7 linked regions of the Homo sapiens genome follow. The protein of the gene in region 1 purifies or fractionates together with the protein of each later gene. This does not show direct contact. Each region holds a gene or a part of one and is shown in the gene's direction. Other genes may lie near its edges.

The links.
Region 2: the proteins of PRKAG3 (region 1) and PRKAA1 purify together in Homo sapiens (affinity purification with mass spectrometry; 4 studies listed by BioGRID and IntAct, with this or other methods). This does not show direct contact.
Region 3: the proteins of PRKAG3 (region 1) and ZNF436 purify together in Homo sapiens (affinity purification with mass spectrometry, with the first as the bait; one large-scale study listed by BioGRID). This does not show direct contact.
Region 4: the proteins of PRKAG3 (region 1) and PRKAA2 purify together in Homo sapiens (affinity purification with mass spectrometry; 4 studies listed by BioGRID and IntAct, with this or other methods). This does not show direct contact.
Region 5: the proteins of PRKAG3 (region 1) and PTPRT purify together in Homo sapiens (affinity purification with mass spectrometry, with the first as the bait; one large-scale study listed by BioGRID). This does not show direct contact.
Region 6: the proteins of PRKAG3 (region 1) and DGKE purify together in Homo sapiens (affinity purification with mass spectrometry; one large-scale study listed by BioGRID and IntAct). This does not show direct contact.
Region 7: the proteins of PRKAG3 (region 1) and FAM228B purify together in Homo sapiens (affinity purification with mass spectrometry, with the first as the bait; one large-scale study listed by BioGRID). This does not show direct contact.

Annotation. Positions count from the first base shown.
Region 1 is NC_000002.12:218,829,004-218,833,192, reverse strand, and holds the start of PRKAG3 (5'-AMP-activated protein kinase subunit gamma-3), read left to right. Parts: upstream 1-1,389; 5' UTR 1,390-1,422; coding exon 1,423-1,455; intron 1,456-1,817; coding exon 1,818-1,857; intron 1,858-2,291; coding exon 2,292-2,447; intron 2,448-2,811; coding exon 2,812-3,215; intron 3,216-4,189. UniProt on the Homo sapiens protein: AMP/ATP-binding subunit of AMP-activated protein kinase (AMPK), an energy sensor protein kinase that plays a key role in regulating cellular energy metabolism.
Region 2 is NC_000005.10:40,777,875-40,781,374, reverse strand, and holds part of PRKAA1 (5'-AMP-activated protein kinase catalytic subunit alpha-1), read left to right. Parts: exon of another isoform or gene 1-20; intron 21-1,036; exon of another isoform or gene 1,037-1,293; coding exon of another isoform or gene 1,294-1,342; intron 1,343-3,500. UniProt on the Homo sapiens protein: Catalytic subunit of AMP-activated protein kinase (AMPK), an energy sensor protein kinase that plays a key role in regulating cellular energy metabolism.
Region 3 is NC_000001.11:23,363,337-23,366,836, reverse strand, and holds part of ZNF436 (zinc finger protein 436), read left to right. Parts: intron 1-3,500. UniProt on the Homo sapiens protein: May be a transcriptional repressor.
Region 4 is NC_000001.11:56,651,814-56,655,313, forward strand, and holds part of PRKAA2 (5'-AMP-activated protein kinase catalytic subunit alpha-2), read left to right. Parts: intron 1-3,500. UniProt on the Homo sapiens protein: Catalytic subunit of AMP-activated protein kinase (AMPK), an energy sensor protein kinase that plays a key role in regulating cellular energy metabolism.
Region 5 is NC_000020.11:42,084,407-42,087,906, reverse strand, and holds part of PTPRT (receptor-type tyrosine-protein phosphatase T isoform 2 precursor), read left to right. Parts: intron 1-2,053; coding exon 2,054-2,179; intron 2,180-3,061; coding exon 3,062-3,225; intron 3,226-3,500. UniProt on the Homo sapiens protein: May be involved in both signal transduction and cellular adhesion in the CNS.
Region 6 is NC_000017.11:56,867,609-56,870,067, forward strand, and holds the end of DGKE (diacylglycerol kinase epsilon), read left to right. Parts: 3' UTR 1-1,959; downstream 1,960-2,459. UniProt on the Homo sapiens protein: Membrane-bound diacylglycerol kinase that converts diacylglycerol/DAG into phosphatidic acid/phosphatidate/PA and regulates the respective levels of these two bioactive lipids.
Region 7 is NC_000002.12:24,161,469-24,164,968, forward strand, and holds part of FAM228B (protein FAM228B), read left to right. Parts: intron 1-37; coding exon 38-145; intron 146-2,729; coding exon 2,730-2,867; intron 2,868-3,500.

The DNA of each region.
Region 1 (4,189 bases):
TAAGGCAAGGGAAGGGGTGTCAAACCAGGCTTTGCTGATCAGGCTTATGGTTTCTTTGCCAATACAACACCCTCACAATCTTAGAAGCCTTCTGAGTGGCTCCATGTTTGAGTAACCACAGCCAATGGCCTCATGTAGACCTTATTTTTATGCTTGAACACTCTGGACTTGGTGTTCTTCCTACTCTCCTTTCTCTCAAACTGGTGGTGGCTATCTTGAGTCCATTTGAAAAAACATGCTTGGTGTGAAGGAAATTCTCTTACACTGATCTCTGTCCTCTGAGCCAGTTCCCACTGTCCAGTGAGCAGATGTCCTTGAGAAAGGCTGGGGACCACAGGAACAGCCCTGGCCAAGGCTGTCCTCCCAACTCCATTCTCCTCCACCCTCCCCATTGGCAGAGTAGGAACATTGAGGGTTGATGGAAAACACATGTAATAAACTCAGACAGAAATTCACCAGTCTGTTGTTGAGTGTCCACTCCAGGGCCAGGGCTGGGATGGAAGAGGCTGGAAGGAGGAGAGAAAGGGAGGGGCAGAGAGAGGAAAGCCGGAGCAGCTGGGTCAGCATTCCCAATCCGGACATTGACTCAGGCTCCGGGAATGCCAAGGAAGAGGGTGGCAGCTACTGGAGCCAGGCTGGGATCCTGTTGGCACCAGGGATGTAGGCACAGCACTCACAGAGGGTTGGGGGCTGGGACACCTGCACACCCAGGCATATCTCCCAACCACAGGTGGAAACAGATGTCTCTTCCCCTGCGGGGAGCTCTGAGTGCTCCCCACGCCTTCGAGGTGATTCTCACAGCTCTTCACCTGCCTGAAACACCCACTCCATCTCCTTCACCTGAGAGAGGGACACACTCCAGGGACTCAAATCTGGACATCTGGACATACACTAGCTGCTCTCCTGGACTACCCACAAACCCCTTGCCTCATCTCCAGCCTCTGAGCTGGCTGCAACTTGCCCTTTCTAACTCCAGCACCACCCTCTACTGAAATTAGAACAAGGAAGAAAGTTATGCTGATCTGCCTCCATGTTCCCTTCTTTGGTGCCTGATAAAGATGAGGGAGGCTCTTGGAATAGGGGCTCAGGACTCTGAGAGCCCAACTCTGCTCAATGACCATGTTCCCACATGCTCCAAGCCACATCCCCTCAAAAAGGGTCCCTCTAGCTTGTCCTCAGTGACCCAGGAGGCAGCTGAGGACCAAGTACCCAGATTATCCGGTGCGCCCCTTCCCTCCCAGCAACCCCCAGCCTTCAGGGCTGTAGCAGCTGAGCAAATGGGGGCCCCTCCCTCTCATTGCCTGACACCCAATCAGAGAGAAACCGATCCTGGCAGGGCAGGGTGCCCGGGGCCGGGCCCAGAATAGTGCAGCCCAGCCACAGTGTCGCACACTTGCTCTCAGTTGGTCTGGGGCTGGCCACATGGAGCCCGGGCTGGAGCACGCACTGCGCAGGGTATGGGGGTCCCAGGGGAGCCGGAGCCGGGGCAGCTGAGGCCAGAAGATTGAGCGCACGGGCTGTGAATGTGTGTGTGGGCGTGTGTGTCTTCTGGTGTGTGTTTGGTCTGGATTTTCTCGTGAATATGGGCATGTGCATGTTTGGGCATATGTATTGTGAGTGTGTGTGGTTCTGTGTGCCTGGGAGTGTTTGGATGTGTGTGTTTCTGTGTGTGTTTGTGTATGGCTGCATGTCTGTGTATGGCGTGTGTCTGAGCGTGTGTATTGGTGTGCATGGGTGTGTAGGCGTGTGTTCAGGGAGAAGGGGTTTGGGAATGTAAGGCACTTTCCCCACTCCTTCAGAAACTCTTCTCCCCACAGACCCCTTCCTGGAGCAGCCTTGGGGGTTCTGAGCATCAAGGTAGGGAGAATGCCCCCTCCCTGGGGCCTAACCTCTTCCCCCACCTCCTTGTCCCCCACTTTTCTGGGACCCCAATTCCCTCCCAGCCTGGCTTTTATCTTCCTCCTTTTGGTCTTTCTTCCTCATTGTTCTTCCTCCTTTCCCCAGGTGTGTTTCCCTCACCTCCAATTTCCTCTTTTCAGAAGTGACTTTCCCACTTACTTGCTGTGTGATTTGCAGCAAATTGCTTAACCTCTCTGAATTTCTGGTCCCTCACTAGCAAAATAGGGATGATAATAATGCCTGCTTTATAAGGCTGCTGTAAGTTTTAAATGAGAAATATGTTGGAGAAAAGCCCATTGGAAGCTTGCAAATCCTAAAGATTATGAATAACATTTGAATTGATTTTGATGCATTACTCCCTATTAACCAAACAGGCCCCATTCCCCTTCCAGAGATGAGCTTCCTAGAGCAAGAAAACAGCAGCTCATGGCCATCACCAGCTGTGACCAGCAGCTCAGAAAGAATCCGTGGGAAACGGAGGGCCAAAGCCTTGAGATGGACAAGGCAGAAGTCGGTGGAGGAAGGGGAGCCACCAGGTCAGGGGGAAGGTGAGGCCAAGGCCAGTTCTGGGGAGGTGGGAGCCAGGGGAGTGGGAAATCCCAGAGGAGCCTGGGTCTGGTCTCTACCTCAGGTCCCTCCATAACACAGAGTTGGACCCAACCTTCATCTTGTGGCCTCAGTCTCCCTACATAGTAGAGAACAAGGCACTGCAGTGCCAGAGGCCAGCATGGCCAACTCAGAAAGATGGGACAGAGCCACTACCTGGGGCGACTCTCAGGTCAGCCCCTCACCTGCAAATAGGGCCACAGCATCCAGGCTTCCCACTGCTGCTGTGAGATGAATGGCGACAGCAGATGAGAACGTGCTTTGGAAGATGGAGTTACTGTCCTCTTCCCCTCCTCCCCCAAACAGGTCCCCGGTCCAGGCCAGCTGCTGAGTCCACCGGGCTGGAGGCCACATTCCCCAAGACCACACCCTTGGCTCAAGCTGATCCTGCCGGGGTGGGCACTCCACCAACAGGGTGGGACTGCCTCCCCTCTGACTGTACAGCCTCAGCTGCAGGCTCCAGCACAGATGATGTGGAGCTGGCCACGGAGTTCCCAGCCACAGAGGCCTGGGAGTGTGAGCTAGAAGGCCTGCTGGAAGAGAGGCCTGCCCTGTGCCTGTCCCCGCAGGCCCCATTTCCCAAGCTGGGCTGGGATGACGAACTGCGGAAACCCGGCGCCCAGATCTACATGCGCTTCATGCAGGAGCACACCTGCTACGATGCCATGGCAACTAGCTCCAAGCTAGTCATCTTCGACACCATGCTGGAGGTGAGGCCACGGCTCTGCCCAACCTGTACTCACTCTCCATCCACACGGTGCTGCAGCCGCCACTCCCACCCTGCAGGATGCCCTGCTGAGCCAGGTGCCCCTGCAAGCCCCCTGAAAGGACTCCTTCTTAGCACTATGGAGGCCAGTTGGGGGAGGGACAGCTTCTACTCTCTGTTAGCACACGTAATTGTCATCACAGCTCTGCCACTTAGTAGCTGTAGGACCTTGAGTTACATTACCTTTCTTGTCTCTAAAATGGGGATCGAAATGCCTGCTGCACCCTACATAGTTCAGAGGATTCTTGGACTACCCAGTATAAAGCGTGAACAAAGTATGTGTAAGACATTGCAGAGGCCGGGCACGGTGGCTCATGTCTGTAATCCCAGCACTTTAGGAGGTCGAGGTGGGCAAATCACAAGGTCAGGAGTTCGAGACCGGCCTGACCAACATGGTGAAACCCCATCTCTACTAAAAAAAAAAATACAAAAAATTAGCCGGCCGTGGTGGTGGGCGCCTGTAATCCCAGCTACTTTGGAGGCTGAGGTAGGCGAATCACTTGAACCCAGGAGGCAGAGGTTGCAGTGAGCCGAGATCGTGCCACTGCACTCCAGCCCGGGAGACAGTGCGAAATTCCATGTCAAAAAAAAAAAAAGGCATCACAGAGTGACTTAGAAAAAAGAGTAGGGGACTCTCTTGGTAACAGAAAAAATAATGAGCTCTGGCACCTGCTCTTCCATTAGGCTTAGCTATAAATGTCTATAATCTTATTCTTATCATTGTTATGCAGTGCAGTGTTTCCCAAAACACGGTGTATGTATTGTCCATAGCATGCATTTTGATTCTAATGGTTCGTGAAAAAATATGTCTATTTCAGTAGCTTTATATTTGTTTTAGGCTGTGTTAAAAAAATATAACCAGCATGTGCAGATAGTACTGCTTAGGACGGGGCACAAAATGAGTCAATATAAAATTTA
Region 2 (3,500 bases), on another chromosome or scaffold:
ATATATTCTCCAGTAGGTTCCTGAGAAAGGGTGCACAAAGGTTAAATTTTTGGAGACTTAGCCTCATGACTGTCTAAATTCTACTGGTGATCATATCCCCAAAAGACCAAATCCCTAATGCCATAATCCCAAATGTTGAAATACTGAAAGATCAAAATCTCTAAAAATCAGAATCCCTAAATTCTAAAAATCTCACACATCTGAAATCCTGAAAATCAGAATCATGAAAGATTAAAATCCCAAATGTTGAAATGCTGAAAGCCAACACCTGGGGTAGAAATTAGTGCACATTCGGTTGTATGAAAGATAGTTGCATCATTTTACTTGCATCATATTAGGTGGAACCGATTGCCTTTTTATTGTATTTATTTGGAAATTAAGTATGGTTTAAGGAGATGGTTTATGGGTGCCAAATTGACGAGGGGTGGATTCATGGATTTAATTTTAGGTGTCAACTTGACTGGATTAAGAAATACCTAGAAACTTGTTAAAGCATTATTTTGGGTTTGTCTGTGAGGAGATTAGTATGTGAGTCTGAGTGGACTAGGTGGGGAAGATCTGCCCTCAATAGCGGTGGCCACCATTAAATCTGCTGGGGGCCCAGAGAAAACAAATTGTTGCCTTTCTGAGAGCTGGAACGGACTTTTCTTCTGCTGAATTGAACATCAGAACTCCAGGCTTGTTGGCATTTGGACTCTAGGACATACACCAGCAGCCCCCTGGGTCCTGGGCTTTCAGCCTCAGACTGAGACCTGGTTTGGCTTGGTTCTGAGGTCTTTGGACTGAGCCAAGCTACCAGCATGCCAGGGTCTCCAGCTTGAAAATGACCTGTCCTGGAACTTATCAGCCACTATAATCGCATGAGCCAATTCCCCTAATAAATCGTCTCTCATATATCTATGTATATATATATCTTATTGGTTATGTCTCTCAAGAATGCTGTCTGTCGAGAATTATGTCTGTCGAGAATGCTGACTAATACGGATTTGGTATTGAGAAAGCCAAATATCATTCCTTCTTACTGTATTCCTTACAGCACAGTGGAAGAGACCTGTGAAATTGTTCCCTTGCAAAAAGGCTGTGATAAATTAAGTATACCAGGCTACTTAATGCTGAAAGAGAAAAGTTTAAAAGCTAATTATTATTGGTGTTGTGAAGACAGAAAATCACTTAATTGCAATGGCCAAGCAATAACCAGATTTCTAAATGGTCAGCATATACTTACAAAATATTTAGACCACAACCGCTCTAGTCTAAACACAAGTGAATGTTTTGAAGATCATAGAAGTGAATATGCAGGTGAAAAATATAAGAAAGCTCCCCTGCCAAATTATTCAATCAGGTATGACTTCTGCCCTTTCACACATAGTGCCAATTTGCTATGCTATGTATTTTATCTTTGCATCATTTCTAATACTGCAGGTATAAATTCTGTAAAGGCTTTTAGAGAATTCTAATTCATTTTATGCACTTTTTTTTTGCATATTTGACTCCATGAAAGTGCATTATCACAATGTGACGTAATGTGTAAGCATTGTGCATGTACATAAAAATGTTGAAACTTGCTCAGTAAATGAAGAGATGTCCGTTTTGTTCATCTGTATTTGTGAAAGATAAAATTTCTCAAGATCTTGGCTCTTTGGGTGACTCTATTGCAGTTTTTGTGCAAACGGTAGTGACCCATTGCAGTTTTTGATCGATCTTGTCAGAAGATTCAGGTTGTCTGGTATTTCAGATGACCGCAGTTATGAATCTGGGTGCACCTGATTACCAACCATAGTGATACGTGTTTATCCATTTTGCTTTTTAATCTATTTCTTCATGAATACATTTTCTCTGTTCCTATTATACCCATGCAATGGTTGTTAGTATACCTGAGTATTTATGCTTGCAAAAATATGTTATTAGTGCCTATTTTATTGTGTAAAGGGGCCTATGAACTGTTCCGTTGTGTTTTTATGTTTCTCAAATAAATCTTTTAAAAATGGAAATAAGTGTCTTTTAGAGAACTTTTTACAAATTATTTTTCCAGAATTCAATTTTTTGGATTTTGTTCTTTTGGGATTGTGATTTTTGGAATTTTAGATTTTAGGGATTTTGATCTTTTGGGATTTCAACATTTGGGATTATGGCATTTGGGATTGTGTCTTTTGGGATTATGTCCTAAACCCAAATTCTGTCACCACCGACTGTCTAGTGATAACATTTAAAATGGAAAGATAAAATGACTTGATTTTTTTTTTCCCTTTATTTTTAACTGCATTTAAAAAAATAGAGGCTGGGCATGGTGGCTCACACCTATAATCCTAGCACTTTGGGAAGTTGAGGCTGGTGGATTGCTTGAACTGAGGAGTTTGAGACCATCCTGGTCAATATGGTAAAACATCATTTCTACAGAAAAATACAAAAAAATTATCTGGGTGTGGTGGGGCCTGCCTGTAGTCCCAGCTACTTGGGAGGCTGAGATGGGAGGATCACCTGATCACCTGAGCCTGGGGAGGTTAACGCTGCAGTGAGCTCTGATTGTGACACGGCACTCCACCCTGGGTGATAGAGTGACACCCTGTCTCAAAAAAAAAAAAAAAAAAAAAAAAATTAAAAAACAGGAAAAAAAATTTAAAACACAGAGAAACCAAAAAAACTAGAAACCACATGCACATGAACCAGAATTTCAAAGGTATAAGAGGTTATGGATGGGGAAATGTATCTATGACATGAGAGAGTCTTTTGGGATGATGGAACTGTTCTGTATCTGACTATATAATGCTGGTTACACCAATTTCTATATGTTTTAATATCCATATAAATGATACTAAAAGAAAAATTTTAGTCTGTGTGTATGATAGGTTAAAAGGTGAAAAATTAAAAGAATTTAAAAATACGAAAAGGTATACAGCAAAAAAGTCTCCTTCCCCTCTTCCTTTAGTCTTCTAGCTTTCTCTTCTGGAAGAAACCACTGTTACCAATTTCTTATGTATTCTCCTATGTAATCACTCTTAAACATCTGAACATTTGGGATGAATCTGGCAAAAGAGAAAATAACTTATATTTGCTTAGCTATTTTCTGAGGATGCTAGATGACTACTCTTATAATATGTCTAAATATATTATTATTTTTATTTTGTTGAGGCAGAGTCTCAATCATCACCCCAGACTGGAGTGCAGTGGTGCAATCTGGGCTCACTGCAACCTCTGCCTCCCAGGTTCAAGTGATTCTCCTGCTTCACCTCCCAAGTAGCTGGGATTACAGGCATGTGCCACCACTGCACCCAGCTAATTTTTGTATTTGTTTGTTTGTTTGAGACAGAGTTTTGCTCTTGTTGCCCAAGCTGGAGTGCAGTGGTGTGATCTCGGCTCACTGCAACCTCCGCCTCCTGGGTTCAAGCGATTCTCCTGCCTCAGCCTCCCGAGTAGCTGGGATTACAGCTGTGTACCAGCACGCCTCGCCAATTTTTTGTATTTTTAGTAGAAACGGGGTTTCACCATGTTAGCCGGGCTGG
Region 3 (3,500 bases), on another chromosome or scaffold:
AGACGTTCAGATTTCTTGTGCCCTGAGTCATTTTCCAATCTCCAGCCTGTTTGTACAGATCACTGACCAAACAGGTCTGGCATAATAGTGCTTGCCAGAATATAAATGCCCCGTAACTAGTGCTTTTACTCTAGGGTGCTAAAAGATGAGGGGATTCTAACCCAGGTTCATGGGAGGGCGAAAGCCACCTTTTTGTGTTTGTTTTGGCTTCAGAGCCCTAGCTTTGCCTCAAGTTCCTTAGCTGAGTAGATTCTCATCTAGAGATGTTTCAGTGTTGATGATGATAGATTTGTAGTGTGTCAAATGCTGTTCCAGAAGAATGCTGAAATAGATCACAAATTCTATTAGAGAGGGCAGCTGATTTTTTTTTCATGGTCTGCAAGCCTGTCTTCTCTCTTTGCTGTACTTTGGTCTGGGTGTAACTAGAATAAAGAGTATATTCTTGAGCTGAACGGTCTTTTGACTCACTTTGCCTCACTTTGCCTCCTGTCAAGACTTGACAGACATTAGCAAGCGTGTATGGGTCACTAGGTCATTTGCCATTCATTAGGATTAATCCTGTTTTTGAAATCTTTATTCCCATAGCCTTTTTCAGAACAAAAGGCAACTCTGAGGGCTTTCCTTTTTAACTTGAGCTTTCTCTGATGTCCCTAGTTTCTTGAATCCTTTCTTTATAAAAGTAACCATAAATAGTTATCTATCCAGATCTATTGCAGTCTGTAACCCAAATATTCCACTGAATCCAACAAAAGCAAAAAATGACAATCTTTAAAAAATGTGAATTTACAATTCTACAGTTTAGCCCCAAAAGCACTTGTTAGAAGGATGAAAGCGCCAAAAAACTGGTTTCTTGCCCAAATAAGTTTGGGAATGGGAATGGGTTTAAAAATGATTACAAGGCTTTTTTTTTTTTTTTTTTGAGACAGGATCTTGTTCTGTTGCCCAGGCTGGAGTGCAGTGGCACGATCACAACTCATTGCAGCCTTGACTTCCCAGGCCCAGGTCATCCTCCCATCTCAGCTTCCTGAGTAGCTGGGATCACAGATGCGTACCACCTTGCCCGGCTAATTCTTTTTATTTTTTAAAAAATTTTAAATTAATTAATTAATTAATTAATTTTTTTGAAACAGAGTCTCAGTCTGTTGCCCAGACTGGAGTGCAGTGGCCCAATCTTGGCTCACTGCAACCTCTGCCTCCTGAGTTCAAGCAATTCTCCTGCCTCAGCCTCCCGACTAGCTGTGATTACAGGTGCATGCCACCACGCTCAGCTAATTTTTGTATTTTTAGTGGAGACGGGGTTTCACCATGTTGGTCAGGCTGGTCTTGAACTCCTGACCTCAAGTGATCCGCCCACCTCGGCCTCCCAAAGTGCTAGGAATACAGGTGTCAGGCACCATGCTCAGCTTCTTTTTATTTTTTTATTATTTATTTATTTTTTTGTGAGATGGAGTCTTGCTCTGTTGCCCAGGCTGGAGTGCAGTGGCGCGATCTCAGCTCACTGCAAGCTCTGCCTCCCAGGTTCACGCCATTCTCCTGCCTTAGCCTCCTGAGTAGCTGGGACTACAGGTGCCCGCCACCACACTCGGCTAGTTTTTGCGTTTTTTTTTTTTAGAGATGGGGTTTCACCGTGTTAGCCAGGATGGTCTCGATCTCCTGACCTCGTGATCTGCCCACCTCGGCCTCCCAAAGTGCTGGGATTATAGACGTGAGCCACCGCGCCCGGCCTGCCTCTTTTTATTTTTAATAGAAGTGAGACCTCCCTATGTTGCACAGGCTGGTCTCAAACTCCTAGGCTCAAGTGATCCTCCTGCATCAGCCTCCCAAAGTGCTGGGATTAGAGGCCTGAGCTACTGCATCTGGCCTTATAAGGCCTTTTTACCTCAGGATTCCTTAGAACCTTTAATGTGTTATTAGGCATTGTGAATTTTGAAGGAAATGATATTGTATGTACCATTTACCAACCCAGTTTATCCATGAACCCTTTTCTCCCAAAATACATACTTTCTTTCTGAAGAGTGTACTAAGAAACCCAATTTGGAGAATGCAGTGTCTGGTATAAAACTCCTTGTAGACAGTGGTTGTGTATTTTGATTTTCATTTGAAGACTGCATGTGAAATATACTTAGACAATGCCAAGAATGTTCTCAGCCAGACATCTTTTTTGCCTTCTTCAACTTTCCCACTCCTATTTTCATTAAAAGGTCACTGAAAAGTAGGAAGTGACATTTGTCAGTCACTTTTCTGTCAACTATGACATAGGTAAAGATTCATTTTTCTCCATATTAACATAGTTGGTTCTGGCCAGGCACGGTGGCTCACGCCTGTAATCCTAGCAGTTTGGGAGGCTGAGGCGGGCAGATCACCTGAGATCAGGAGTTCAAGACCCGCCTGGCCAACATGGTAAAACCTGTCTCTACTAAAAATACAAGAAAATAGCTGGATGTGGTGGCGGGCACCTGTAATCCCAGCTACTCGGAAAGATGAGGCAGGAGAATCGCTTGAACCCAGGAGGCAGAGGTTACAGTGAGCGGAGATTGCGCCATTGCACTCCGGCCTGGGCAACAAGAGTGAAATTCCATCTCAAAAAACAAAACAAAACAAACAAACAAACAAAAACATAGTGGCTTCTTAGTAAATATTTTATGATGCTACTAATGATGAAGGCTTGGCAAGTTAAAAAATACATACTCACAAAATACCTAGAATCTTGCCTTTTAGATATTCTAATTTAGAGTCTCATATTTTCTGCTTCCAGTGTTCTTTCAAAACACGAATATATATAGTTTTTTTTTTAAGAGACAGGGTCTCGTTCTGTCACCCATATTGGTGTGCGGTGGCACAATCACAGCTTATTGCAGCCTTGAACTCCTGGGCTCAAGTGATCCTCTTACCTCAGCCTCCTGAGTAGCTGGGACTACAGTTGCATGCCACCACATCCACCTAATTTTTTAAATTTTTTTGTAGAGATGGGTTCTCCCTATATTGCCCAGGCTGGTCTTGAACTCCTGGCCTTAAGTGTTCCTCCTGACTTGGCCTCCTAAAGTGTTAGGATTACATGCGTGAGCCACGGCACCTGGCCTGTATAGTTTTCTTAATGAATCATTAATTACAGCGATACAGAATGTGAATTTTGACAGACCTGAGTTTGAATACTGGCTCTACCATTTACTATGGCCTTGAGCAAGTCAATTCACTTGTCTGGGTCTTGGATTTCTCATTAATGAAGTAGAAATAATCACAATTCCTGACTCTCAGAATAGCTGTGATAAAGAATATATGTGACGAAGAATATAAATAATTTAGGCTGGCCACAGTGGCTCAGAAGTTCAATACCAGCCTGACCAATATAGTGAAACCCTGTGTCTACTAAAAATAAAAAAATTAGCCGGGCATGGTGGCGTGCACCTGTAGTCCCAGCTACTCAGGAGGCTGAGACAGGAGAATTGCTTGAACCCAGGAGGCAGAGGTTGCAGTGAGCCAAGATCACACCACTGCACTCC
Region 4 (3,500 bases), on another chromosome or scaffold:
GATTTCAGTGTGTTTACTGATATGAAAGTAATCTTTTTTTTTTTTTTGAGACTAGTCTGGCTCTGTCGCCCAGGCTGGAGTGCAGTGGTGCTATCTCAGCTCACTGCAAGCTCCGCCTCCTGGGTTCACGCCATTCTCTTGCCTCAGCCTCCCCAGTAGCTGAGACTACAGGCGCCTGCCACCACGCCTGGCTAATTTTTTTTTTTTTTTTTTTTTTGGAGACAGAATCTTGCTCTGTCACCAGTCTGGAGTGCAGTGGCGCGATCTCGGCTCACTACAACCTCTGCCTCCTGGGTTCAAGCGATTCCACTGCCTCGGCCTCCCGACTAGCTGGGACTACAGGCGTGCACCACCACGCCCTGCTAATTTTTTGTATTGTAGTAGAGATGGGGTTTCACCATGTTGGCCAGGATGGTCTCGATCTCCTGACCTCGTAATACGCCCGCCTCAGCTTCCCAAAGTGCTGGGAGTAAAGGCGTGAGCTATTGCGCCCGGCCTCACCCGGCTAATTTTCTGTATTTTTGGTAGAGACAGGGTTTCACCGTGTTAGCCAGGATGGTCTTGCTCTCTTGACCTTGTGATCCACCTGCCTCGGCCTCCCAAAGTGCTGGGATTACAGGCTATAAAGGTAATCTTGACTAGTGATTGCCAGTAACCTTTAGTAACCAGACTAAAGAGAACTTGTACAAATGATTTGATGTTCTAGAAGAAAACATTGGTATAAGAAGGTATTAGCTCTGGAATTAATTCCATTTCTACTACCAGTTGTCTCACCTTTGGGAAAAACCATTAGATGCTGAGCCTTTGTTTCCTCCTTCGTAATATGGCAATGATCATACTTGTCCTGCCTACCTTCTGGAATAGTTATGAAGATCAAATGAGTTGAGGTATATAAAATGGCTTTGGAAAAGATAAAATGCTATACAGATAGATGACACTTGTGGAGATGGTGAGATGCATGGCAATTGTAGGTAAATTCTGCACCCTGTGTTAGAAAGTACTTACTTTCCATTGAAATGCCTTCAGTTCTCACACCAACATTGAGATAGAGCTGTAGTAATCTGCCCCTATTTTGTGGTTGCCTAGGTTGAAGAAAGCTCTTAATGACTACTTTATCTGTGCTTTATGATACTTATTAATGTTTATATTAAAAACAATATCCTGTATGACTAAGTCATGTAATTTGCTTTTTCCCAAATATGGAAGATGAATGAAACAAGAATGAAATGGAAGTAATAGTTAAATAAAAGTGAATGTACACACATTCACAGTAAATTGATTTTACTTTTGAAATTATGCAAATTCTAAACAAGTGTTAAATATTGGTTCCAAATAATGAAATTATGTTTCTTCTCAAATACTAGATTAGTGATTGAATTAAAATCAGTTGAATTATTCTCACAATTAGGTAAATACGTGCTATTTAGGTTTCTCTTGCTGATATATATAGATATATATAATATATATATAATTTATATGATTTTTGAATTGTGTCCTTAATATCTGAATGGATTTTGTTCATTTGGTGTAGCCAGTTGATTGACTTTCAAAGGGTATTTTAAATAGGAAACAATGTTATAAATGGTAGCTATTTTCATAGTATGTCCACAAAGGCAGCCTGATGTAGTATAAATACTCTCTGTAGTATGTTGAACTTAGAAGACCTGGTGTGGAACCTTTGTTTTGTCATAAACCAGCTATGTGGTCAAACTCAATCTGTAAAAATGGGAATAATACCATATGTTCTCTTCTAGTGTTGTGAGAAGTACATGAGAAAATGTACATAGATGAAAAAGCACTCAGAAGTACTTATGTACTTTTGTGTATGTAGACACCATTATGTACTTAAACCCACAATTAGCTGAACTATGAGAATAATCTGTGATCTGGTTCTGAGACCAGAAATTTATTGATGAGAGAGAGGGAAGAATTCACTACCTCCTGTCTTGTTTTACTCTGGTCTTATTTCTGCAAATGAATGTGTTCAGAAACCTGTAATTCTCTAGAAGCTGCTCACTTTTCACCATCTTCTGTGCATCACTTGGAAGGCACAAACACATTATATATATTTTGTATACATACATATATATGTATGTATGTATTCCAGATCCCATGGTATCCATCATAGAAACTCTTGGAGGAAAGAGGCATAAGCTGGGAAGGGGGAAAGTGTGGGCAGCAGATGGCATTTAGTATGAATGGGTCATTTTAAAGTCCTGGTCCACTTGTAGTAGAACCAAAATGAGGCTATACATATATTTTCAGTTCAGATAATACACTCTGAGCTAAAAATGCTTTTCTACCAAACTTTATCTTAACATATCCATATAAATTAGAAAGGATTTTGTAGTTTGGTCATATATTGAGGTAATTACCTCAGTTCCATGAGCTTTCTCCCTTTTTCATGCTGACACAACCATGCTTTATCTTGCTTCTTTTTGTAAAAACATCCCAAAATGTCCACTTACCTTGTGGTCCATGTTAGCTTTCTTGAAAGCATTTGGTACTGCTTTGTAATAATAATACCACCCCATTTATTCTTCTGAGATTCCTGTGGTTTCCTAAATGATAGAGAAAATATTTTGTAGAGGAAGTATTAATAATTTTTGAAGCCAAGCAGATAATTTAATTTGACCTAGCAGGAAGATCTAATCTCAAATCCTTTAAGAAATAATGAGTAAGTGGCTGGCACAAGACCCTTAAAGCATTAAATATGTTATAAAAATGAGAGCAAATCTACCTAGTGTATTTATCAACTACAAATATAAGAGAAATGTAAACCTTAAATCAGGCTTTTATTTTTATCTGTTATTGAAGTGATTGAAATGCGTATGAAAAGCAATGTGTTTATTTTGAAATATGATGAACCTTTTTATTTTTAGTATGGTGTTATTAAGGAAAGAATTTCAGGCAGTTATCTCTGCTAATAATAGAAGCCTTCTTCACCCCTTCAAGGGAACAGTATTCTTGCTTAAGTGGTGTCTTATGTTTGGCAGTGTTTGCCTCTGATAAATTTTATGTATTTCTTTGGGTGGTACCTTTGTTTTTAAAATATTCATAATTCTCTTTTTAATCTGCCATTAGATCTTTTTAAACAGCCTTTTATATGATTAAAGATAATTTATAAAATCTTGCTATATGTCTCTTACTCTGAATGTTAGTATGTTATTAATATACTTTGTTTTTTCAGAATCATTTTTCTTCAGATTATATATACTATTAAAACAAGAACAGTGTGTTCTTATTCAACATCTCAGTTTCTAAATTATAAATGAATTATAAGGTAAGTTAAACTGACTGTCATAAAACAATAGATCTAACATTTTTAAATATACCATACTTTTTTTTTTCTAAATGCTTGTTTTACTTGGGCAATATGATAAGTATAAGTTATTTTCATTTTCTTTTTAAAAAAATCATTTTACTGTTTCTCACAATGTATGTATTTATATATCTATATATATATATTTTTTTTTTTTTTTTGTAGAGACAGGGTCTCA
Region 5 (3,500 bases), on another chromosome or scaffold:
TTCTTCTTCTATTTTTTTTTTTTTTTTTTTTTTTGAAATGGAGTCTTGCTCTGTTTCCCAGGTTGGAGTACAGTGGCGTGATCTCCACCCACTACAACCTCTGCCCCCTGGGTTCAAGTGATTCTCCTGCCTCAGCCTCCTGAGTAGCTGGGATTACAGGTGCCCACCACCATACCCGGCTAATTTTTGTATTTTTAGTGGAGACGGGTTTCACCATCTTGGCCAAGCTGGTCTCGAACTCCTGACCTCACGATCCACCCACCTTGGCCTCCCAAAGTGCTGGGATTACAGGCGTAAGCCACCGCACCCAGCCTCCATCTCTTCTTCTCAATGACCCCTGAAGCTTAAAGAATAATTTATGGCCAGGTGCAGTGGCTCACACCTGTAATCCCGGCACTTTGGGAGGCCAAGGTGGGTGGATCACGAGGTCAGGAGATCAAGACCATCCTGGCTAACACGGTGAGGCTCTGTCTCTACTAAAAACACAAAATAAAAATAAAAAAAATAAAATAGCCGGGTGTGATGGCACATGCCTGTAGTCACAACTACTTGGGAGGCTGAGGCAGGAGAACCACTTGAACCCGGGAGGCAGAGGTTGCAGCAAGCCAAGATCGCACCACTGCACTCCCGCCTAGGTAACAGAGTGAGACTCCGTCTCAAAAATAATAATAATAATAATTATAATGATTTTATACTAGGTTTTCTCAGTCTCTGCACTATGGATATTTGGGGCCACATAACTCTCGGGGGGAGCTAATCTGTGCACTGCAGGATGTTGAGTAGCATCCTCTCCTCTACTCACTAAATGCCCATAGCAACCCGCAGGTGTGACAATCAAAATGTCTTCAGACATTGCCCAGATGCCCTCTGGGAAACAAAACAGTCTCAGACTGAGAACCACTGTCTTAAACAGAAGGTCAATCACTGCCTTTTGCTCTCAGCTGTAGGTTCTAATTTCCAATTCCAGATAAATAGAAAGAATCATAGGCAAGATCTGTCAGCACCATGTGACATTAACTTTTGGTGCAAAGTAAGCATAATTATCCCCACTTTACCTATGAGAAAACTGAGGCCTGGGCTGCACAGCTAGTGAGCACCTGAGACCAGATTTGGACCCAAGGCCGCCTGAGGTCAAACCCATATATATATATATTTTTTTTTTTTTTTTTTTTTTTTTTTTGAGATGGAGTCTCGCTGTGTCACCCAGGCTGGAGTGCAGTGGCGCGATCTCAGCTCACTGCAAGCTCCGCCTCCCGAAACCCCTATATTTTTTACACTACTTCTGATCTGATCATGAATGAACACTATGAAGGTTTTCCTGGAATGAGGAAGAGCTTGTGATGATTTGCGTGGTGAAAAGAAAAATAGATGGTACTTGCCCTTTCTTTAGCATGTTCTATCTAATCCTGACAGCGGGGCTTAGAGGTAGATATTATTCTCCCCATTTTACAGATGAGGAAACTCAGGTTAAGCAAACCTAACAAATGGTTTGAAATCAACATAGCAAAGATTTGCAAGCCCAGTGTTTCTGTGCTCAAAGCCTTGATATTTCAACACCAGAAAAAGTGGATGGCTGCTCCCTAAAGGGGAAACTGAGTCTAATTTCCTACATAATACTCTACCTTTCTGGCCAATGTGTCCTTCCAGCCATAAAAAAAGCTTGGTGACGGCTGGGCACAGTGGCTCACACCTATAATCCTAGCACTCTGGGAGGCTGGGACAGGTGGATCACCCGAGGTCAGGAGTTCAAGACTAGCCTGGCCAACACGGCGAAACCCCATCTTTACTAAAAATAGCCAGACATGGTGGCAGGTGCCTATAATCCCAGCTACTTGGGAGGCTGAGGCAGGAGAATCACTTGAACCTGGGAGGCAGAGGTTGCAGTGAGCCAAAATCGTGCCAATGCACTCCAGGCTGGGCAACAAGAGTGATGCTCCATCTCAAAAAAAAAAAAGAAAAAGAAAAAAAGAAAAGAAAAGCTTGTTGATAAATGAGACTTTGATACCCGCCCCCTGCCTTTGAGCTCCTTCTGTGACCTCTTTCCTTATCTCAGTTCTGTATGCAGTACTGGCCTGAGAAGACCTCCGGGTGCTATGGGCCCATCCAGGTGGAGTTCGTCTCCGCAGACATCGACGAGGACATCATCCACAGAATATTCCGCATCTGTAACATGGCCCGGGTAAGTACACGGCCGCCATTGCTTGCTGAGCCCCTCCTCCCCAAGACAGATGGAGGCTGCCGAGAGAGGATCCCGCTGAGCCAGCCAAGAGTCTGTGTTGTGCTCTCCTGATAATTTCTTCCTTGAGGAAGTGATGCCTGTGCTGATTCCGGCTCCAGACTCAGCAATGACTCCAACACATAGAGATGCAACGAGCGACATCCAACCTGCCATCTGCCTGTTTCCTGACACACTTGCTGCCGTGTAGACAAAACTTCTTAGACATTAGCTCTTCCCCACTGTGTCTCTGTACTGGCATGAGTTGATGCAGCCTTTGATTGGATCCCATAAGCTTTGGGCCAGGCACTGCCAACACCTAGATGAAAAGTGATTACTTACTTCCATGAGGATGTTCACTGGCTGAGCAGAGTAGTGGGTGGGAGGGGCAGATTAGCAATCTATGAAATGGTTGCTAACTAATGCAGCTTTGGTCACTACTTGGGGCCCAGGATGAAAGGAGCTCAGCACCTCCCCTACCCCCCTGCTCAGAGTTCACTGTCCACTGAGACAGTGAGACATGTTCTGGCACATGAGCCTCAGGGAGAAAAAACTCTGCCCAACAGAGTCAGGGAAGGCTTTCCTAAAGAAAGGGACATTTAAATTGGGTTTTGAAGGCTGAGCAGGAGTTTTTCAGGTACAAAAGGGGGTTCAGGGCAGTCACGGCAAGAGAATCTGTGTACACGAAGGAATAGAAGTAGTCATGGGGACTCTCCCCGTGAGGACATGGCTTAGATCCCATTTGGTCTGTCTTCCACCATGATGCTGCAGTCCCCGGGGTATCTGCAAGGTGCATGTACGCAAGCATCCCCAGCAGAACAGCCCTAACAGCCTCTCTGTTCTCAGCCACAGGATGGTTATCGTATAGTCCAGCACCTCCAGTACATTGGCTGGCCTGCCTACCGGGACACGCCCCCCTCCAAGCGCTCTCTGCTCAAAGTGGTCCGACGACTGGAGAAGTGGCAGGAGCAGTATGACGGGAGGGAGGGACGTACTGTGGTCCACTGCCTGTGAGTACTAGGGAGGTGTCACCAGGGCAATAGGGTGGTGGGTGATAGAGCATCCTTGCAGATGCTGCTGGCCACATACCCCAGTCCTAGGCAGGCCTGGCTATACCACAACTCAACATCCCTCAAAGGCTAGTGGCAGTACATTCAAAGGAATTATGATCCTTTAATGGAACGGGGCTGCCAGTTTGTTGTCCTGAACTAATATATGACATATTATTGATGCAAAACCTAGTGGTCTTTCCACAAACATGAGAGGAGGTTGCCTGCTTCTCTAC
Region 6 (2,459 bases), on another chromosome or scaffold:
AAAAAGGCCGGGCGTGGTGGCTCACGCCTGTAATCCCAGCACTTTGGGAGGCTGAGGCAGGTGGATCACGAGGTCAGGAGATCGAGACTATCCTGGCTAACACGGTGACACCCCGCCTCTACTAAAAATCCAAAAATTTAGCCGGGCATGGTGGCGGGCACCTGTAGTCCCAGCTACTCGGGAGGCTGAGGCAGGAGAATGGCGTGAACCCGGGAGGCAGAGCTTGCAGGGAGGCGGAGCTTGCAGCGAGCCGAGATAGTGCCACTGCAGTGGGGCCTGGGCCAAAGAGTGAGACTCCATCTCAAAAAAAAAAAAAAAGAAAGAAATGTGTTGCTGGTATCAGATATCAGACCAAGAACACTTCAGTCTCTCTAAGGATGCCCTGAGCTACCTCACTGTTAAAGGACGACATCAACACAGAATGCACTAAACAGGAAATAAGCTGTAATCTAGAGAATTTCCATTATGTGTTACTTTTTGGTGACTAACATGGAATGTTGAAAAGGAAGAGCTGGAAAGCTCAGTTGTTTTCCTTGTTCCTCTGACATTGTCCAGGCAAGAGGGCATCCTGATCAGATGAGTAGATTTGGCTGAGAAAAACCCTAGAGTAAGGCAGGCACTTTGTGGAGGTGGATGATGATGGCTCATAAAAACGTTTGTTCTCAGTCCAGTTCAGGGCTCTGCCAGCAGTCTTTCAGATCTGAACTGCTTAAACAAACCCTACAGATAAATTGGCACTCTGATTTGTAATTCTGTTTGTACAAGTTTAGAGCAGCCTAGCTCGAGTCCTCAACCCCAGTCCTCTTAGAAGTGAACTGATTGCACTGGATCCCTAAACCCACAATGTTGAGGACACATGTGATGACTCCACTTGCTCAGCCAGCTGGCCTCTTGCACTTTCCCCTGCCCACCACTTGTAACTACCACTTAATTATCTTGTGTTAATTGCTTTTGTTGTGTTGGGTCTGTATTTTTGTGGTCAGTGCCTGCAGGCAGAAATGTGAAAGCATTTGGTATGTTGAAGATACTTGCTTCTTTTTTAATAAAATTAAAAGTGCAGCACGTAAGTATGATACTGTGTAGTTTTTTGACACAACCATGAGATACAATAAGCAGCTTTGACTTAGTGTCCCAAAAAGTGGTTCTTGGTCTACAGCAGGGCAAACATATATGTGGCAAGTTCTGATCACATACTTTTAGACAGAAAGAATAAAAAATTCATATTGCATGGCTTTTGTAGCCTAAGAGCACAGAATCATACACGTGTGTTAGGAGAAACATTCATTCTCACGCATATAAACTGGCTCCTGGCAGAGTAGAGCAGTAAGTGGGATCAAAGGTGAATTCACCTTATTTTCAGTTGGTAGAGTATGGAAAAATGTATCACTTATTTGAAATACCTGAATGGAAACCCAGCCTCTACTACTGTAACTTAACACTTGTTCTTCCTGAGCCTCAAATTTTCTTTCTCTGTAAGAATGGGAATTAATGCCCACCTACGGGTTGCAAGTGCTTACAGGAGCTGGGCAAGCAACGAAGGTAAGAGTTGTAGAGACTTCGGTAAACTGGAGCACATGATTCCTGGGAAGCAGGCCTAGTGTAAACAATTTATTTTTCTAGAAAAGACAGAAGTTTAGAGTATATGAAATCTAATTTTTAAGTATTGGTTGGCAACTAATTGACTATCGTCTACCATAAGGTTATATGATAATTATTAGGGCAGGAGAGTGAATGCATCTTAATATGCATGGCAGAACTGTGTGTTTCCTTCCATCTGGATTTTCATAAAGCTTTCTGATTTATCAGTAACGATCTGAAAAATGTACTGTGGCATGTAACATCTTTTATTCATTTTATTAGGCATTAGAGGAAGAATATTCTGTAGTCCTGCTTTATTCTGCCATCTTTACCTGGAAATCCATTTTTATAAAATTTTTGTAATAAAAATTCACTTGATCACTTGCCTGCTTTCTTTTAAACAGTGCCAAGCGTAATGCCCCTTGATAATTTACATATATGTGAACGTGGCTGTGATAGCTGCTGATGTTCACACATAGGCCATCTTACATGTAATGATCCATGTTTGGACTTAAACAGCTTCACACATTTATTGTACAGTTAGGTGTCACATGCTTTTACTTTTTATTTTATAATCTGTATTTCTGTGAGGTAGACATTATTGGCTCCATGTTATATACATTGATAGCCCGGAGCTAGAGATTGAACCCAGGCCATCCTCCCCACTGCCTTTCATCATCAACACAACCACCACCAACAGTATTTTAAAAGTGTTAAATATTGGCAGACGTGTCATTGTTCTGAGCACTAGGACTAGGGCTTATGCGGCTGTCTGAGGAATTCCCTGTACAAGGAAACATCATATACCAAAAAGTTACTCATGGAAGGAGTTTGGAGATGATGAGCTAAAAGTATTACACATGGACTATTGTAAAAGAAAA
Region 7 (3,500 bases), about 190 Mb from region 1:
ACAAAAAAACCTTCTCACACTTGTTATCTTGTTAAAGGTTAAAGGTGAAAGTGAATTTTAATGACTGTAGTTTTGATTTGAAACCTTTGGCAAGAGCTCCTTATCTTTTGGAATCCCAGGAAGAAGAAAAAACAGTTATTTACAAGTAAGTCTGTTCTTCCATAGCTTTGCTCTTCTTTTGCTAAGATGCTAGGCTGTGCTGCCATCCCCTGCCATCCTTTCATGTTGCTGAGACGGTGCTGAGGCACACACAAAGCTCCATTGTGGCAGGACACCGGGCATCTCCTACCACTGTGTCTGGTGAGGTGGCAACACTTCCCAGGCTTTTCTGGTCTTAAAGAACAAGTAGGCTGGGTGCGGTGGCTCCCGCCTGTAATCCCAGCACTTTGGGAGGCCGAGGCGGGCAGATCACCTGAGGTCAGGAGTTTGAGACCAGCCTGGTCAACATGGTGAAACCCTGTCTCTACTAAAAATATAAAAATTAGCCAGGCGTGGTGGTGGGCAACTATAATCCCAGCTATCTGGAAGGCTGAGGCAGGAGAATTGTTTGAACCCGGGAGGCAGAAGTTGTAGTGAGCCAAGATTGTGCCACTGCACTCCAGCTTGGGCGACAGAGCAAGACTCTGTCTCAAAAACAAACAAACAAAAAAACCAAACAGCAACAACAAAACAAGTAGCTAATACAGAAATAACAAACACAGAAATGGAAAAAAAATTGTTAACAACTTGTACTAAAGCTAAAAGGTTAGGAGATTTAAAATTGAATTGGAGTAGTATAAATGGAGTTTGGGACTGGTTTGGGTGGGTAGTAGCTGTTACAATGTTGTACCTAGAGTGAAAGATGTTGTTGTAAACAGAGAATGGTACATACTATCAAATACTATGTATATAATGTGGGGAATCATCTCAGCTAACTAGTTTTAGAATTAAGAGATTTCTCTACATAATTATGTATCTTGTGACTATCTGGTTAAAAGTCGTGCTGCCCCTCAGATATTGCTGGAGGGAATGTAAAATGGTGCAGCAACTTTGGAAGGCAGCTTGGCAGTTTCTCAAGATGTTAAACATTAAATTATTATGTGACCCAGAAATTCCGCTCCTAGGTTTCTACTCAGGAGTAATGAAAACATATCCACATAAAGGCTAGGATATGGATGTTCATAGCAGCATTATTCACAACAGCCAAAAAAGTGGAAACAACCCAAATGTCTATCAGCTGATGAATGGATAAACAAGATGTGGTATATCCATACAATGGAATATTACTTGGCAATTAAAAGGAAAAAAATACTGATACATGCTGCAACATAGACAAACTTCAAAACCATTGTACTCAGTGAAGGAAGCCAATAACAAAAAGCTACATATAGTATGTTTTTTTATACAAAATGTTCAGAAAAGGCAAATCTGTAAAGACAGAAGGTAGATAGTAGTTGCTTAGGGCTGGGGATGGGAGTGGAGAGTGACTTAATGAGCATGGAGCCTTGGGGTTAATGAAAATGTTCTAAAATAAGATTGTCGTGGTGGTTGCACAACTCTGTAAATATACTAAAAACCATTGACTTGTACACTTAAAATGGGTGAATTTTATGTCATATAAATTACACCTTATTAAAATTGTTCATAATAATAATAAAAAAGGAACCTAGCAAGGTGCAAGAAAAGTGAGCTTTTATGACTTTCTAGGAGATCGGCTTACAATTCTCTGTTCCTAAAAAGTGCCCGAAGTAAGCTGCAGTAGTTTCCTTTTCCTGAACAGGTTCAGAATTTGTTGAATAAATACAGTGTGGCAGAAGCTGGAGGGCTTTTAGAGATGCTGGTATGACCAGCAGAGAGAACAACTAATTGTCTCCTGAGGACCTTAGTGATGTACCGTAGAAACAGATGACAGCTGGGGAGGGCGTTGGCCAACATGGGCTCATTGTCCTTGAGGTGTGGTTTAACCATTTGCTGGGTTGTTTCTTGAATAGGAGCCACAAGTGAGGGGAAAAAGGAAGTGTCCAAACTAAGCCCTATTCCCTTGGTAGCTGAAGGCCTTAAAAGACAAAATGATTGATTGAAAAGAGAATTGAGACTCACTCTTGCATATTAGGGTCCAAAGGAGTAAGTTCTTCTGCAATCCCTAATTACCAGAGTCTCAAATAGACCTGTTTGGGTAAGATTTTACAATAATCAGCATCTTAATTCTATTTAATTTTGATAAATGATATAAAAGGAGAGATTTTGTTCTCAAATACATCTTCTAGCAAAGCGAGACCCACGTGTGAAGGAGGATATTGCATTTCTGGAGTAGTGGGTTCCTGTATTTTAGACTAGAGGCTTAAGTCTAGGCTCACTCTAGAAGAAAGAGGAAGACTGGATTCTCTTCCATGAATAAGGGAAGCATCCCAATTCTGGCAGCAGGGGTGGAGAAGGCATATTTGTCCTTGGCAGAGTTAGACCTTCTCAGGGAGGGCAAACTGGACAACTCTATGAGGGATCATTCACTCCAAAGGACCCAAAGCTGTTTGATTAAGCAGCACAGAGATTACAGCTGAAACTATGACTAGAGCAAGGCAATACTATTTATTTGGGTTTATTTTCACACAAAAAAAGTAAATACGTTTATTTTCATAAAAATACACAAATTCACATAGAACTCATCAACTTCAAATTTAAATAAAAATATTAAGTGCTACAGTTGAGTTGAGAGTTAAGAGAATCCCTTCCTTTCTGGTTCCTTCCTGCAGAAACAAAGGGTCATCCTTTCTAGAAAGAGAACCGCTGTGCTATCAGGAGGGAAATAATCCAAGTGCCAAAGAGGCCATCTCTGAAGGGTATTTTTCTTCCTTGAGCCTCAGCCAGGAACGGGAGGAAGACCAGGATGGGTAAGAGCTGGGGCTGTCCCATTTCATCATACATAAGGTGGCAATCGCTGATACCAAAATCTGAGCACCTGGGAACTTTCTTTGTATGGCAGGCTTCCAGGAAGAGAGGAGGCAGTGGGGAATAGGTTAGAAGCAGCTGAGGGGCAGGTGCCCTTTATTCAGAGGGAATGGAGAGGGCTGCCCTGGCCCCCTGGTGGAGTCACACGATGAGGGTGCCCCCTGGTGGAGCCACACGATGAGGGTGCCCCCTGGTGGAGCCACACGATGAGGGTGCCCCCTGGTGGGTGGGCCACGCTGTCCAGGATTTCCCCAGCCCCTCTCTCAGTCCGCCATCTCCACCCTGTCTCTACCATTTACCACTTAGCATAGCCAAGCCAGGCCCCACATTTTGTTAACCTTAAGGCAGTCAAGATAGGTAGAAAATTTTCAAAAGGACCAATACTAAATTCAAGTAGTAAAATTTAGGAAGTGAAAGCCCCCATATTGAGAGATTGCCAGCAGCAGAGAGGAGCACCCACGCTTCCTCACTCGGCACCTTGTGACTCCTGGATTGCATTAGGGCTGAGTGAGGGCTTGTTCTCTGTGGACCCTGGAGTAGGCCCTGTGACTGGTGGAAAGGATCCCGGGAAAAAA